Linked DNA regions of Homo sapiens: region 2 is linked to region 1. A link means that fine-mapping ties the variant in region 1 to the expression of a gene that starts in the linked region. Tissue or cell type: fibroblasts. Region 1 holds a variant in brackets; the other region holds the start of a gene. All regions are shown on one strand. Distances are from middle to middle.

Region 1 (8,107 bases):
AAGAATAATAATATAATCTAAAATTCTCTTTATTGTAAATGCCATACAATTATAACTTCAGGGTGACTTGCTATTTCTTGCAAAATCCAGTACTAGTTTTTATTTTATTTTTTGTTTTTATTTTTTTGAGCTGTAGTCTCGCTCTGTCACCCAGGCTGGAATGCAATGGTGCAATCTTGGCTCACTGCAACCTCTGCCTCCCAAGTTTAAGTGATTCTCCTGCCTCAGCCTCCTGAGTAGCTGGGATTACAGGCATGCGTCACCACGCCCAGCTAATTTTTGTATTTTTAGTAGAGATGGGGTTTCACCATGTTGGCCGGGCTGGTCTTAAACTCCTGACCTCAGGTAACCTACCTGCCTCAGCCTCCCAAAGTGCTGGGATTACAAGCATGAGCCACCATGCCCAGCCTGTTTGCAGATTTTTTAAATGTCTGGTTTAATAAAGGACAGATGAACTCTCTTTTCTTCTGTATCCAAACCATTGCAATAATTTTGTTTTTTGTTTTTTGTTTTTGTTTGTTTGTTTTGAGGCAGGGTCTCACTCTGTCACCCAGGCTGGGCAACATCGTGAGATCCCATCTCTGCAAATAAATAAATAAATAAATAAATAAATAAATTAGTTGGGCATGGTGGCATGCACCTGTAGTCCTAACTACCTGGGAGGCTGAGGTGGGAGTTTGAAGCTGCAGTGAGCTATGATCATACCACTGCACTCCAGCCTAGGTGACAGAGCAAGACCTTGTCTCAAAAAAAAAAAAAAAAAAGTGAGAATACAGCTTTGGGCTAAACTTAATAAGATTAACATTTATTTATTTATTTAATTTTATTATTATTATTATTTTTGAGACAAAGTCTCTGTGTCGCCCAATCTCAGCTCACTGCAACCTCCACCTCCCTGGTTCAAGTGATTCTCCTGCCTCAGCCTCCCAAGTAGCTGGGACTACAGGTGCCTACCACCACACCCGGCTACTTTTTGTATTTCCAGTAGAGACAGAGTTTTGCCATGTTCGCCAGGCTATTCTCGAACTCCTGACCTCAGGTTATCTGCTCACCTCAGCCTCCCAAAGTGCTGGGGTTACAGGTGTGAGCCACCACGCCAGACCCAAGATTAACATTTAAAAGGTAGACTTAGTAACACAGCTTACCCTCTCTATTGTGGGCGGGCCACGTCCAATCTTTTGAAGGCCTGAATAAAACAAAAAGGCTGGCCCTTCTACGAATAAAAGGAACTCCTTTCCTGTCAACCTTTAAGCTGAGACATGAGTTTTTTTCTTGCTTTTGGACATAAAATAAAAACATTAGCTCTTTCTGGGTCTCAAGCCTGCCAGCCTTTGGACTGGAACTACATCATTGTCTCTCCTTCTCAGCCCTTCAGACTAGGACTGGGACTGCACCACCAGCATTCCTGGGTCTCCAGCTCTCTTCAACGAAATCATTTTAGTGTACTGCCTTTTTCTTGAGGGGACCATTACTGATACAGAAAAAGTAATTGAGGCCAGGCACAGTGGCTCACGCCTATAATCCCAGCACTTTGGGAGGCCAAGGCAGGCAGATCACCAGAGGTCAGGAGTTCGAGACCAGCCTGATCAACATGGAGAAACCCTGTCTCTATTAAAAATACAAAAATTAGCCGGGCGTGTTGATGCGCACCTGTAATCCCAGCTACTCGGGAGGCTGAGGCAGGAGAATCATTTGAACCTGGGAGGTGGAGGTTACAGTGAGCCAAGATTATGCCATTGCACTCCAGCCTGGGCAACAAGAGTGAAACTCTATCTCAAAAAAAAAAAAAAAAAAAAAAAAAGAGAGAGAAAAAGTAATTGATTTTCCCCAGATCACAGAGCTTATAAGAGATGAGGTCCAGATTCCAATCCAGTCAACTTGTTAGGAGGGTCTGTATTCTTAACGTCTAAATTCTACAAGAGGGATTTTTTCCCCATAGAGGCACCATTCAGGGTGAGCTGGATATTGTTAGGATTTGGGAGCCGACAGGGGCTATCATTTATTCTCGTTCTTTGACCACATCATAGGCCATTGCCTCTTCTCTGTTTGCTGGTTCATGCAAGACCAGGAGCTCCCCCAGTAAGTGGCCGGAAGGGTAATACCCACCCCCCGCAAGCCAAGTCTCTCCCCATTCTCTTGCTCAGCCTCAGTCACGGGAACCACCCTGTGGTTGATTCATTCTGACAATTATTATAGGTAGCTTAGGAACGGATGGTTGAGTTGTGAGTTGCAGAAACTCGGTCAAGCTGGCTTAAGTTAAACCTGCTGGAAGAACACAAGGGAATTTAAAGGAAGCCAACTGCAGACAGTGCGTCTAGACCTTAGAGGAACTGGAACATTATCTGGTAGCTTCTCCCTACCCCTTGCAATCTGGGGCTTCATCATCTCTCACTTCTTCTCTGTTCAAATCCTCTGCTCAGTTCTCTCTCTGTGACTCTTTCTAGCAAATGATCCAGCCGGAGGGTGTTCTGGAGATTCTGCAAATTGGCAGAAGCGAGGGTGGTCTTGTATGAAGGGTCTGCCCTCTAACTTTGTAGCAGGGTCCTATTTTACTACACTCTCCTTCTGGGCCTCAATTTCTCCATGTGTCAGCATAGGAAGAACTCTCTGACTTAATGGAGTTGGTGACCAAAGGGGTTCCAGGATTTACAAGTATCCTGCGTAATTATAAAAGAGGTACAGAAGCAAAAGGTTTAGTTAAACCATCATTCATTGAAGCCTTTTGTATGCAGGGAAAAGGCAAGGATGACACGATGCCCTCCAGAAGCTCTGGGGTCAGTGGCATAGGTTAAATAAATGCATTGGATGCTGATGAGTAAGGCTTGCAGAGCTTCGTGGGGGGTGTACAGAAAAAATCATCATGGGAGTCTAGAGAAGAGCTAGATTCCCAAGGACCACATCATGTCATCAAAACTCAGGAATCTCCCCTTGCACTGAGATGAAATTAGCCCTCATCACCCAGCCCCTCACCCAAAGACAGGTTCTGCTGTAAGTTAATTCTGGATGCTCCAAGCTTCTCCTTCATCTCTCTTCTTTCTATTCATTCTCTCTCCATTTCTCTTCTGTTTCTTGTTTATAATAAAATGATGGCCAGGCGCAGTGGCTCACTCCTGTAATCCCAGCACTCTGGGAGGCTGAGGCGGGCAGATCTCCTGAGGTAAGGAGTTCGAGACCAGCCTGACCAACATGGAGAAACTCCATCTCTACTAAAAAATACAAAGTGAGCCAGGTGTGATGCATGCCTGTAATCCCAGCTACTCTGGAGGCTGAGGCAGGAGAATCGCTTGAACCCAGTAAGTGGAGGTTGCAGTGAGCCGAGATTGTGCCATTGCACTCTAGCCTGGGCAACAAGAGTGAAACTCTGTCTCAAAAATAAATAAATAAATAAAATAAAATACAATAAAATGATGATGTCTGTAATGGTAATTAAATGATTATTCAAGAGCCGACAACAGAAATCTTCTTGATGGGGTGTGGTGGCTCACACCTGTAATCCCAGCACTTTGGAAGGCTGAGGCGGGTGGATCACAAGATCAGGAGTTCAAAACCAGCCTGGCCAATATGGCAAAACCCCACCTCTACTAAAAATACAAAAAAATTTAGCCGGGCGCAGTGGCGGGCGCCTGTAGTCCCAGCTAACCTGGAGGCTGAGGCAGGAGAATCGCTTGAACCCGGGAGGCAGAGGTTGCAGTGAGCTGAGATCGCACCACTGCACTCCAGACTGGGCGACAGAGTAAGACTCTGTCTCAAAAAAAAAAAAAAAAAAAAGAGCTGGCACCAGAAATCTTCTTAAGGAGGATACTGTTATTGATAAATGACTTGAGTTAGGAAAGGAGACCTGAGGGATAAAGAGTCAGAGTCAAGGGTAGGATGGCTAAATTTCTCTGCGTTGTAAAAAAAAAAAAAAAAAAAAAAAAAAAAGCAGGAATCTGGAGGTGAGGAGATAAGAGGGAGGGTGGACTTTTAAAAGGATGTCTTAAGTTCAACTGGAAGCTTTCATGTTTGTCCGTTGCTGGCCAGTTGCATACTCTAACATTTCCAAGCTTCTTTCTGTAAAGTGTGTTTCATATTTAAATACCTTGTGCAGGTAGCTTTTCAGTAAATTGAAGGAAATGTCTGAGTTCCTCTCTGGGTTAATTTCATCAGGGCAGCAACCACCAGACATTGTGTGAACTGGACTAACTCAGTTGAAGCAAGACTTAGAGCCACAGGTAAAAACACGGGCCCTGGGGGCCCTCCCTTGTGGAGAGGATAATCTGTTTCCCAAAATTTATTATATAAAAGATTAGGCATCAGGTAGATCTCAAGGAAATGAGGGGTCTTCAGCTGACATCTCGATAACTTTATATTTTTACTGAGTTGTTGACCGATAAAGGCTGAGGACTTTATATAAAGTATCTTCTTTTTTTTTTTTTCTGAGCCGGAGTCTCTCTCTGTCACCCAGGCTGGAGTGTAGTGGCGTTTTCTTGGCTCACTACAACCTCCGCCTTCCAGGTTCAAGCGATTCTCCTGCCTCGGTCTCCTGAGTAGCTGGGATTACGGGAGCCTGCCACTACGCCCAGCTAATTTTTGTATTTTTAGTAGAGACAGGGTTTCACCATGTTGGCCAGGCTGTTCTCGAATTCCTGACC[C/T]CTGGTGATCCGCCTGCCTCGGCCTCCCAAAGTGCTGGGATTACAGGCATGAGCCACCGCTCCTGCCCTATATAAAGTATCTTCTTGTATATCTTGTCTGATTTAAGCCATACTCTTTCACACTTCTCCCTCCTCCTTCATTTACCTAGGATGACTATATAATTTATTTTTCACAGCAGGGCACTTTTCAGAATGGAAGTGGACACTACTCATCATGATGCCAGAATGATGGGTATCATTCACTACTCATAATTCAGGACTAATAATAATGGGTATTATTTGGGTTCATTTCAGGCAAACTAGGATGCAGATGACAGCTTCTTCCTATCATTTCCCACCCTGACCACCCAAGGCTGAGGTCCAAAATCAAAAAAGAAGTCAATAATAAACTCATATCTGTTTATTCTCCCCAAATCAGGGGACACAAAGGCTTTTTTTTTTTTTTCTGATGAGTGGGTAATCCTAAAATAAGCAGGAAATGCCTGTGGCTCAGCCTAACTCAAGGTGAGACGAAGCTGGAGCTGGGAGCTCGAAAGTGTCCCCCAGCTCCCTCCTCACTTTGCCTGTAACTCCACCTCTGCAGAAGGTAAAGTAGAATTGGTAGCTGTGTCACTGGTTTGGGTTGAGTCCTCGGTCAGGGCCCTCTCCAGACTGGCGGGAAGGGCGTGGATCAGCCTCTCCCGGAAGTCCTGGCCCATGAAGACATAGAGCATGGGGTTGAGGCAGCTGTTGAAGAAGGCCAGGGCACTTGTCACATCCACTGCAATACCAATTTCTTTGTACATGCCTTGCAATAACTCACGGATTCTGACTGTGGCTATAAGGGCCACCACCTGATATGGGGACCAGCAGAGAAAAAAGGCTGCTGCGACAAAGGAGAGGACCCGTAAGGGACGACTGGACTTAATCAAGCCTTGCTTGTGGATCTTGGTGGCAATAAGCCCATAACTGACAGCAACGATGGACATGGGTGCGCTGAAGCCAATGATGAACCGGATGATGCCTCTCACCGTCAACATGGCAACGGCCACATTTATCCTCTCTTTAGGGTCGTTGGTCCAGGGCGAAAAGTTAAAAGTGCAGGCTACTGTCCCCGTTTTACCAGGTACTGTAGTCACACGAATGATAACTGGCAATGTGAGGAGCAGAGCCATCACCCAGGGCCCAATGATCACCTTCTTGGCCAGGCTCACGGTGCGGTGGTTCTGGGTCCAGACTGGATGCAGGACGCAAACACAGCGGTCCAGAGCAATGAGGGCGATCAGGAAGACACTTCCGAACAAGTTGATGTCCACTATGGTAAAGACGAATTTGCACAGGAACCAGCCGAAAGGCCAATGTCCTCCCATGGCCTTCCTGACCATGAAGAATGGCAAAGTGGAGGTGAAACAGAAGTCAGCCACGGCCAGGTTCAGGTAACTGATGGTGGTGACTGTGTGTGTCATCCGGAATCCAGCCACCCAGATCACAAGCCCGTTGCCCAGGACCCCGAGGACAAAGGTGACTGCAAATACCAGATAAGTGATGATATCCAGGAAGAGATAGCCAGCAGATACAGCAGGTGTCCCTCCAGAGATGTTCGTGGGGAGAGAGGAATTTGTCTCCATCTTGTCTGCTCCTGAAATAGTGCAGTCGTGGTCATTCCTCAGTTATGAACCTCCGTACCATTTCCCCACCCCCTCATTTCTGCCCCTGCCAGTTTTCCCACTCCTAGCTTTCTCACCTTCCCCTAGAGCTCCCACAACAGCCGGAACATCCTCACCACTGTCCCTTACACATGCCCACATCTATACATTGGCAATCTTTTATTGTACCTGTTGGGCAAGATTACATCTTTTTTTTTTTTTTTGAGATGGAATATTGCTCTGTCACCCAGGCTGGAGTGCAGTGGCGTGATCTCTCACTGCAACCTCCACCTCCCGGGTTCAAGCAATTCCCCTGCCTCAGCGTCCTGAGTAGCTGAGACTACAGGTATGCACCACCCCACTCCTGGCTAATTTTCGTATATTTAGTAGAGGTGGGGTTTTGCCATGTTGGCCAGGCTGGTCTTGAACTGCTGACCCCAGGTGATCCACCCACCTCAGCCTCCCAAAGTGCTGGGATTACAGACGTGAGCTACCACGTGTGGCCAAGATTGCATCTTATGACACATCCTCATAATTGCTAACATGCAAGCCCCTACCAGGGAGATTAAATGGCTAAGGAAGATAGGGTCCTTGACCTCCAAGAGGAGAATATGGGGCCAAAGATGTATAGAGAAAACATGTATTCAAACAAAAATGTTCATAGAGACACTCCTCCCTATAGCCAAAAGGTAGAAACAACCCAGATGTCCATCAACAGATGAATGGATAAACAAAATGTGGTTTATCCACCCAATGGAATATTATTCTGCCATAAAAAACAATGAAGCACTGATATATGCTACAACGTGGCTGAACCTTGAAAACATTACTCTAAACAAAAGAGGGCTGGATGTGGTGGTTCACGCCTGTCATCTCAGAGCTTTGGGAAGCCGAGGTAGGAGGGTTGCTTGAGCTCAGGAGTTCATGATCAGCCTGAGCCACATAGCAAGATCCTCATCTCTAACAACAACAACAACAAAATTAAATTAAATTAGCTGGATGTGGTGGCACACACCTGTAGTCCTAGCTACTCAGAAGGGTGAGATGGGAGGCTCACTTGAGCCCAGGAATTCAAGGTTAATAGTGTACTATGATTGAGCCACTGCACTCCAGCCTGGGCAACAAAGCAAGACCCTGTCTCTAAAATGAAAGAAAAAAGAAAGGAAGGAAAGAAGGAGGAAGGAAGGAGAGAAGGAAGGAAGACACCACAAGTCACATTTTGTATGATTCCACTTGTATGAAATATCCAGAGTAGCCAAACTCACAGAGACCGAATGCAGATTAGTGATTGCCAGGGACTGGGGAAACTAGGAAGTGGGGAATTGTTGCTTAATGAATATGCAGTTTTTGCTTGGTGTGATTAAAAAGTTCTGGAACTAGATAATGGTTATGGTTGCAACACACTGTAGATGTACTTAATGCCATTGAATTGTACATTTAAATGGGTAACTTTTTTATTGTTGTTTGAGACGCAGTCTCGTTCTGTCACCCAGGCTGGAGTGCAGTGGTGCGATCTTGGCTCACTGCAACCTCCGCCTCCCGCGTTTAAGTGATTCTCCTGCCTCAGCCTCCTGAGTAGCTGGAATTACAGGCACTTGCCACCATGCCCAGCTAATTTTTATATTTTTGTAGAGATGGGGTTTCACCATGTTGGCCAGCCTGGTCTCAAACTCCTTGACCTCAGGTGATCTGCCCGCCTCGGCGTCCCAAAGTGCTGAGATTATAGGCGTGAGCCACTGTGCCCAGCCTAAAATGGTTAACTTTTTGTATTTTACCATCAATTTAATAAAGGAAAAATAAGAGCATAAGATATCAGAAAATCAGTGGGCGACAGCTTCAGTGACCTAGTGT
Region 2 (8,088 bases), 21 kb before region 1:
CGCGAAGAGGCTCTGCGCCACCAGGTGCGCTGAAAGGAAGGCCCCGTAGAGGCCGAAGGCCAGGAGGCCGTAGCGATCGGAGGCCAGCGGCACCCCGGCGGCGTAGGCCCAGGTCATGAGGCCCAGGATGAGCAGGGCGAAGGCGATGGTCAGCACCCTCCGGGCCAGGCCGGAGCAGCGGCAGGCTGCAGGAGTGGGCTTGGGCGCGTCCTGCTGGGAGCGAGAGGGGAAAGGAAGGGGCATGAGTCCCGGGCGCATGAGCCTCCTCCGAGAGAAGATTAAAAATCCTTTCCTTCCTTCCCTCCTTCCCTTTCCCTCCCCTCCCTCTCTCTCTCCCTCCCTCCGTCCTTCCTTCTCTTTATCTTTCTCTCTCTCTGTGTCTGTCTCGCTGTCTCTCTCTCTCTCTCGCTCTCGCTCTCCCTTTCTCTCTCCTTTCGTTTTTTGTTTTTTTTTTCTTTTGAGACAGGGTCTCACTCCAGCCTAGTGTCGCCATCTAGGCTCACTGCAGCCTCAGCTTCCCGAGCTCAGGCTCAGCCTCCCACCTCAGCCTCCCGAGTAGCTGGGACTACAAAGAGTGTGCCACAACTCCTGGCTAATTTTTAAATTTTTGGTAGAGCCGGGGGTCTCCCTACATTACCTAGGCTGGTCTGGAACCCCTGGGCTCAAGTGACTTGCCTGCCCCGGCCTTCCTAAGTGCTGGGATTACAGGCATGAGCTACCTCGCCGGGCCCCAAAATTATTTTCATTAACGAAAATAATTGGAGCAAATAGCTATCTAGGCTTCATGCTGATTAGATTCCTTCTTTTCATTATTATTTATTTTTATAGACAGGGTCTTGCTCTGTCGCCCAGGCTGGGGTGCAGTGGCACCATCATAGCTCACTGCAGCTTCTAACTCCTAGGCTCTGGCGATTCTCTCACCTCAGTCTCCCAAGAAGCTAGGACCACAAGGCTGGAGTCACTATGCCTTGCTAATTAAAAAAAAAACAATTAGAGGAGGGGTCTCACTATGTCTCCTAGGCTCCAGTCTCCCAAAGTGCTATGAATACAGGCATGAGCCACCAAGCCCAGCCTGATTTTGTTTCTTCCAATACAACTTTTTTCCACGTTTTGAAATCTCTTAAATCCGTGAGGATGATTGCATGCGATGGAGTGTCACAATTTAATTACTAGGGCGTTTCCCTCCTCTTTCTTAGTGGCACATACAATGAGGATTTATCTCCCAATCAAAGGTTTCTTAGGGTTGAGACAGTAATAATAATAACACATACTAAAAAACCAAAATGCTGTGTACCAGTCCCTGCTCTAAGCCTTTAAGATGAATGAATTTATTTTAATCTTTACAACAGCGCTGTAAGGTAGGTACTGTTATTATTATCCCCGTTGTACAGATGAGGCAACTGAGTCACACAGAGGTTCAGCAATTTGCCCAAGGTTGTCCCTGGAAAGCAGAGGAACCTGGATTTGAACCCTAGGAACTGAATCTCTAAACCTCTAGCCCTCGGGAGAGCCCTGGGGGACAGATAGTGCTCTGCCACCATACAGGTGGCCAAACTGAGGACTGATTGGCCAGAAGGAGTGGCTTGCACAAGATCAGCAGCCCATGGTAGAGGACTCTTCTCTCTGACTTTCCAGAGGCATAGCCTGGTTCTCCTTTTCCACTGCCCAACTCCCCAGCAGAGCCAGGTGCCCCAGTAAATGTTGCTGGAAGAGCCCAGAATCAGAGGAAAAAGTACTTTCTGTGTGCCAGACACTACTGTACAACAACCTTAATATATATATATAAATTTTTTTTTAAATTGAGACAGGGAGCCAGAAACTGTGGCTCACGCCTGTAATCCCAGCACTTTGGGAGGCGGAGGCGGGTGGATCACCTGAGGTCAGGAGTTCGAGATTAGCCTGGCTAACATGGCGAAAGCAAAATACAAAAATTAGCCAGGCTTGGTGGCGCACGACTGTAGTCTCAGCTCCTCAGAAGGCTAAGGCAGGAGAACTGCTTGAACCCCTGAGGTGGAGGTTGCAGTGAGCCAAGATGGCACCACTACACTTCAGCCTGGGTGACAGTGCGAGACTCCATCTCGAAATAATAATAATAATAATAGAGACAGGGTCTTGCTGTGTTTCTCAAGTTGGTCTCGAACTCCCAGGCTCTAGCGATCCTCCTGCCTTGGCCCCCTAAAGTGCTGGGATTATAGGCGTGAGCTACTGCACCCGGTCTCTACAACAATCTTATAAGGCAGGTACCTTCACTGTCTTCTGTTACAGATGAGGAAACTGAGACACTGAGAGGCAAATACTTTTACCCAAGGTCACTCAGGTAATAAGCAGAGTCAGAAGTAAAACTCAGGCAGTCTGGCTCTGGCGTCCCCTCTACGCTAAACTGCCTCCTATGCCACCAGTTCCTGCCTCAAGGCTTACTGTGGGTTATTTAAATGCGTCGTTAAGATGTAGATCTTTGTGTCCAACACAGGTGTCAGCAGCCACATGTGTCTACCGAGTACTTGAAATGCAGCCAGTATCACCGAGGAACTGAGTTTTAAATTTTATTTAATTTTAATTCATTTAAATTTAAAAACTCTTACTTGATTCGGTTATTGGAAAGATTTTAAATATGTCTGGAACAAGTTGCATCTACGATGCCCCTTTTATAATTGTAAATCTTATAAAATCTAAACACAGATTAGGTATTTCCAGTGAAAAGGTAGCATCTAAGTGAGAAGTGCTATGAACACACTGGATTTTGAAGGCCAAGTCTGGGGAAAAGAAAGTAAAATAGCTCATTAACATTTATGTATTGATTACATATTGAAATGATCATATCTTATATGTAGCAGGGGTCGGCATGCTAAGACCTGCTGCAGCCTGCAGGCTAAGAATTTGTGTGTGTGTTTTTAGATGGTTTTTGAAAGCCAAAAGAAGAATAATAGTTTGTGGAGCATGAAAAATATGAAATTCAAATTTCAGTGTCCTTAAAGGAAGTTTTATTTGCATACAACCACATTCATTTGTTTATACATCATCTGTGGCTGATTCTACATTTACCACATCGAAGTTGAGTACTTTCAAAAGAGACCAGATGGCCCCCAAAAGCCTCAAATATTTAATATTGGGCCCTTTATTTAAAAAAATGTGCTGGCCCCTGACACACTGGGTTAAATAAAAATATATTATTAAAATTAATTTCACCTGTTTGTTTTTACTTTTTCAAATGTGGCCACAAGAAAATTTTAAATTAGATATTGTGGTTTTCGTTACATTTCTAGAGGACAAAACTGAGGTACAGCTTTTAAACTCTCAACATTAAACATTATTCTTTCTTCTCGAATCCCCCTTCTCTCTTCCTTTGCTTCAAACCTGGCCTTGCCTGAGTTCCTAGGGATGGCTCAATTCATGCTGGGGATCCAGAGAGTTGATTCCAGAAACACAGATGAACACACGTGTAGACACACTCCCCCACACGTGAACTCACACATGATGAGTGACACACAGAATGAAATTACTCGTGTTCTACAGGATGACCCGAGACACCCACTCAGGCCAAACACAGCGATCCCGTGACCCCCACCGACGGCCACACAGGTGAACCTGCAGACACACACCCCTCAGCAGGAAAAAGCAACACCAGCAAAGGATGTCCACGTGGCCACAAACACACAGAGCCCCAACTGAGAGTCTGGGGCAATGGGATGCACAGGGAAGATTTCAAGAGAAATAGTAGGTGACTGTCAAGCTGATACTGAACCAGATGAAATTGCTATTCTTCCAAGTTTAGAGTGGCTCAGTATCGGCGATTTCATTTGGTTCAACTTAATAGCTATTGAACGCATGAAACAGAAATCCATTCCCATGTGCCACAGGCAAATCCAACTCTCTTTCTCACTCAGTCTCTTTCATTCGCTCACTGTCGCACTCCCTCTTTCTCTCTGCCTCCCAGGGAACATAGACATACACAAGTTTGTAGCAAGATACGCAGATACAGAAATACGGACATGGCACGTCTCACCTACATGTACTTGGGATGGCCGCTCACACAGGGCAATGTATACACAGACCTGCACACTCAGCCTCACATGCTCACTGTCCCCTACACACATATGGTCACTGTCAGGCACATGGATACACACATGAAATCATGCACACACAGTTCCCCAACACACGTGGTCACACATATGGCAGTAGTTTTCCCCACATGGCTGTATACACACACACACACACACACACACACACACACACACACACCTGTCTCATCGCAGTGGGTCTGGCCGGGCTCTCTCTTCTCTCCGGCTTGCTCTCCCAGCCTCTCTGTGGCCAGAGAGCTGGAGGGGGGTCATTTGAAGACCAGCGCAGGCGGGGGCGGGAGCGAGCGCTGACGTCAGTCAGGCTAAGCTGGGCCAGGGGCTCTGAGGTCACGGCCCAGCCGGGCAGCTCCACCCGCTTCCCGCTATTACTCCCACCCCCCTCAGCCAGACGGGCCTCCCTTCCCAGGCCCCCATGTCTACCCGCGCCCCTCCTCTAGTCCTCTCTGCCATCACTCCCCCTCCTCTCCCTCCCTCCTCTATGTCTTCTTCTCTCTTCCTCCCCCCTCTCGTCCCTTGTCTCCCCTGATTTTTCTCTTCCACCTCACTTGCATTTTGGGGGTTCCCCTCATCCCCCCATCCCCTATCCCTGTATTTCCCTCCATCCCTTTCTTTCTCCCTAACCCACTATTTCTCCTCATCTCTTTGTTGGTACCCTCATCTCTCTCCCCATTACCACATTTCTCCAAGTTTCTGTCTTTCTCTCCATCCCTTTCTTCCTCTCCACTTCTCTTGCCTCCTCTCACCCTCATTTCTTTCTCTTCTTGCTTTAAAGCTCTCCCCACCTCCCCCTTCTCACCTTCCCCAGTCACCCCCGCCCTGCTTCTCCCCACAGCCGCCTCTCCTGTCCCCAGAATCCATCTCTGGGTTGGGCCCCCCAGGGACATGTCTCAGCAACTGGCAGATGGAACGAAACTCACACACGTGCGTGCTGTGGGTGTGCCTGTGTGTACGCTGGCCCGAGGCACGGCTGCCTGGAACCGGAGCTGTGAGTGAACATCTGTCCATTCAGCGCCTAACTGACGTGGGTCTGCGTGTGTGCACCAGGGTCTGGGGTGGAGAGCTGGGGCGCTGGGATTTGTATCCCCAGGGACTCAGGGATGAACACAGAGAGTTGTCGGTCAGCTGACCCTGGGGAGCCAGCCGGGGTCTGTCAGTGCTGTCACCCATCAGGGAAACTGAGTCAGAGGAAGGGTGAAAAGAGATGCGGGACCTGGGGTGCCCGAACCCCAGCCCCTCAGGACCAGATCTGTGATAAATGTCTGTTTACATGCCCTTCTTTCCATGAATTTTTTAAAAAAACTATCTGTATCTAATTCTGTTCTTCTCTCTGCTCCTCTTACTGTGAACTATTGATGTCTCACTTTCGGCCTTGGTAGCTGCCTCGGTAGCTGCCTCGTTCTTTTCTCCCTGCCTGTGACTCCAACGACCTTTGGTGTCTGGCACGGGCCAGCTCCAGGACAGGCTGAAAGACATGGAGCAGCAGAGAGAAATTCCCCCGTGCTTCTCTCTCCTCGTCTGTCCCTCCCCAAATCTCTGTCATTTTGTATCTGTCACCCCATCTCTGTTTCTCGGTCCCTCTATTTGGGTCTCTGCCTCTGTGTATTCCTGTCTGTTTCTCCTCCTCATCCCCCCTCACAGCCATTCTCTCTCTGCTTTTACCTGGGAGTGTCTGTCCCTTTGCATTTCTGAAGTCTCCCTGACTTTCTTCTTGTGTGGCTCTCTTTCTTTCTGAGTGCCTCTCCCTGACTTTCTCACTGTGTGTCCATGTGTGTGTGTCTCTTTCTCTCTGTCTCTTTTTCCCTCTATCTCCCTCCCTCTCTAGCTCTGTCTCTATCCTCCTTCCGTCTCTCTGCATCCCCATCTCTCTCTTTTTTTTTTTTTTTTTTTGAGACGGAGTCTCACTCTCTCACCTAGGCTGGAGTGCAGTGGCGTGAGCTCGGCTCACTGCAACCTCCGCCTCCCGGGTTCAAGCGATTCTCCTGCCTTAGCCTCCCGAGTAGCTGGAACTACAAGCGCCCACCACCACACCTGGCTAATTTTTTGTATTTTTAGTAGAGATGGGGTTTCACTATGTAGGCCAGGCTGGTCTCCAACTCCTGACCTCAAGTGATCCATCTGCCTTGGCCTTCCAAAGTGTTGGGATTACAGGCGTGAGCCACCGCACCTATCTCTTTGTAAGGCTCTATCTCTGTATGTGTTTCTCTGTCTCTGTCTCTCTCATTCAGTTTCTCTCCATTTCTCTGTTTCTACATCTTCGTCTCTCCCTGCAGTTCCATCTCTTCCAGCCTGTCCCGGAGCTCTCCCCTGCCAGACACCAAGTCCTCACACCAAGTCCTCACACCCTGGGGTTTTCCCCGAGGAGGCTGCGCCAGGCCAAGCCTCTGCCTGGGCCTGTCAGGGAGAAGGTGCATTCCCAAGGAGCTCGAACGCCCTTCCCACCCACCAGGGCGGGCCGGGCTGTGTCTGACGCTGTTGCCGGGAGCCGGGCTGCCTGGTGTCTGGCTGTGTCAGGATGATGGGTCCTCAGATGATCTGAGGCCAGCCCAGAGCAGAAGGGGAGGGTGAGTCCTCCGCCCAGTGGGAGGGGGCAGCGCAGGCTCCTCCCCAGAAGTGGGGCATTTGGCTGCCCAGCCCCCACCCCGCCCTGCTCGGGTGGAGCAGCTGTATAAAACCAGATGTTTCTAAAACCAGAGTGCGGTTGAGGAAGGATAACCAGGGCTTTAATCCTCAACAGTTCCCTCCTCTAAGACCCAGGAGTCCAGGTTCCCAGCACCCTCCTCCTTCAGACCCGAGAGTCCAGACCCCAGCCCTTCCTCTCTCAGGCCCAGGAGTCCAGGTTCCCATGTCCCTCCTCCCTCAGACCCAGGATCCCAGACACCCAGCCCCTCCTCCTTCAGACCCAGGAGTACAGGTTCAGAGTTCCTCATCCCTCAGACCCAGGGTCCAGACCCCCAGTCCCTCCTCCCTGAGACCCAGGAGTCCAGGCCCCCAGCCCCACCTCCCTCAGACCCAGAAGTCCAGGTCCCCAGCACCCCTCCCTCAGACCCAGGAGTCCAGGCTGCCAGCCCCGCCTCCCTCAGACCCAGGAGTCCAGGCCCCATCCCCTCCTCCCTCAGACCCAGGAGTCCAGGCCCCATCCCCTCCTCCCTCAGACCCAGGAGTCCAGGCCCCATCCCCTCCTCCCTCAGACCCAGGAGTCCAGACTCCATCTCCTCCTCCCTCAGACCCAGGAGTCCAGGCCCCCATCCCCTCCTCCCTCAGACCCTGGAGCCCAGGCCCAGGCCCCCATCCCCTCCTCCCTCAGACCCAGGAGTCTCAACTCCCAGCTTCCTTCTCCCTTAGACCTACATGTCCAGCCCCCAGAATTTCTTGCAGGAAGAGATGACCAAGGCTGGAAGCAGCCCAGACAAGTGCTGAAAGACAGGGAGCAGTGAAGCTGAACACTCCCACAGCAGGCCGGGGCTGTTGTTGGAGGGACAGGTAGGGACACCGCACCCCTCGCTAACACCCATGGCTCCTAGAAACCCCCATTCCTCTGGTGGCTGCTCTCCAGTTCCTGCCCTGGGTCCACAGTGGCCTTCCCAGCATTTCAGCCATCATCAGGAAACCTCAGGGTACAGCTTACAGAATACCTGGACAGAAGGAGCACAGGGTGGGAGAGGTAAGGCAAAAATGGAGCAAAGGCAGAGGAGAGAACATTCATTCATTGTGGGGACATCTCCTGAGCCCTGGTGGACAGGGCTGGGCTGGGCGATGCCGGGCACACAGAGATGACTCAGCCCTGGGCCCTGCCCTTGGGGAGATGCCAATCTGGTGGAGAAGACAGCTGTGTAAACAGAGGGCCACAAAACAGTACAAGGATGCACCAACCCAGCCCAAGAGTCAGGGAGGGCTTCCTGGAGGAGGTGATGCTGGCTGATGAGGCGTTAGCCGTGGTCAGGGTGGTGGTGGACGGTGGGGCAAGAAAGGGGCATCCAAGGCAAGAAATGGTGTGGCCAGTCAAAAAAGT

The links. PIP is the estimated chance that this variant, and not a neighbour inherited with it, causes the effect.
Region 2: HAS1 starts here. The variant in region 1 is fine-mapped to the expression of HAS1 in fibroblasts (GTEx, PIP above 0.99).

The regions. Positions count from the first base shown.
Region 1 is chr19:51,740,757-51,748,863 of GRCh38, forward strand. It overlaps FPR1 (formyl peptide receptor 1), which reads right to left. Exons shown (of 2, transcript NM_002029.4): 2 at 5,017-6,249. The coding sequence starts at 6,238. The coding sequence ends at 5,186. Among named protein-coding and RNA genes, the nearest start is that of FPR1, 7.1 kb to the right of the region's middle. The variant C/T (reference allele first, on the strand shown) is at 4,632.
Region 2 is chr19:51,719,686-51,727,773 of GRCh38, forward strand. It overlaps HAS1 (hyaluronan synthase 1), which reads right to left and starts at 4,306. Exons shown (of 5, transcript NM_001297436.2): 1 at 4,240-4,306; 2 at 1-210. The coding sequence starts at 4,248.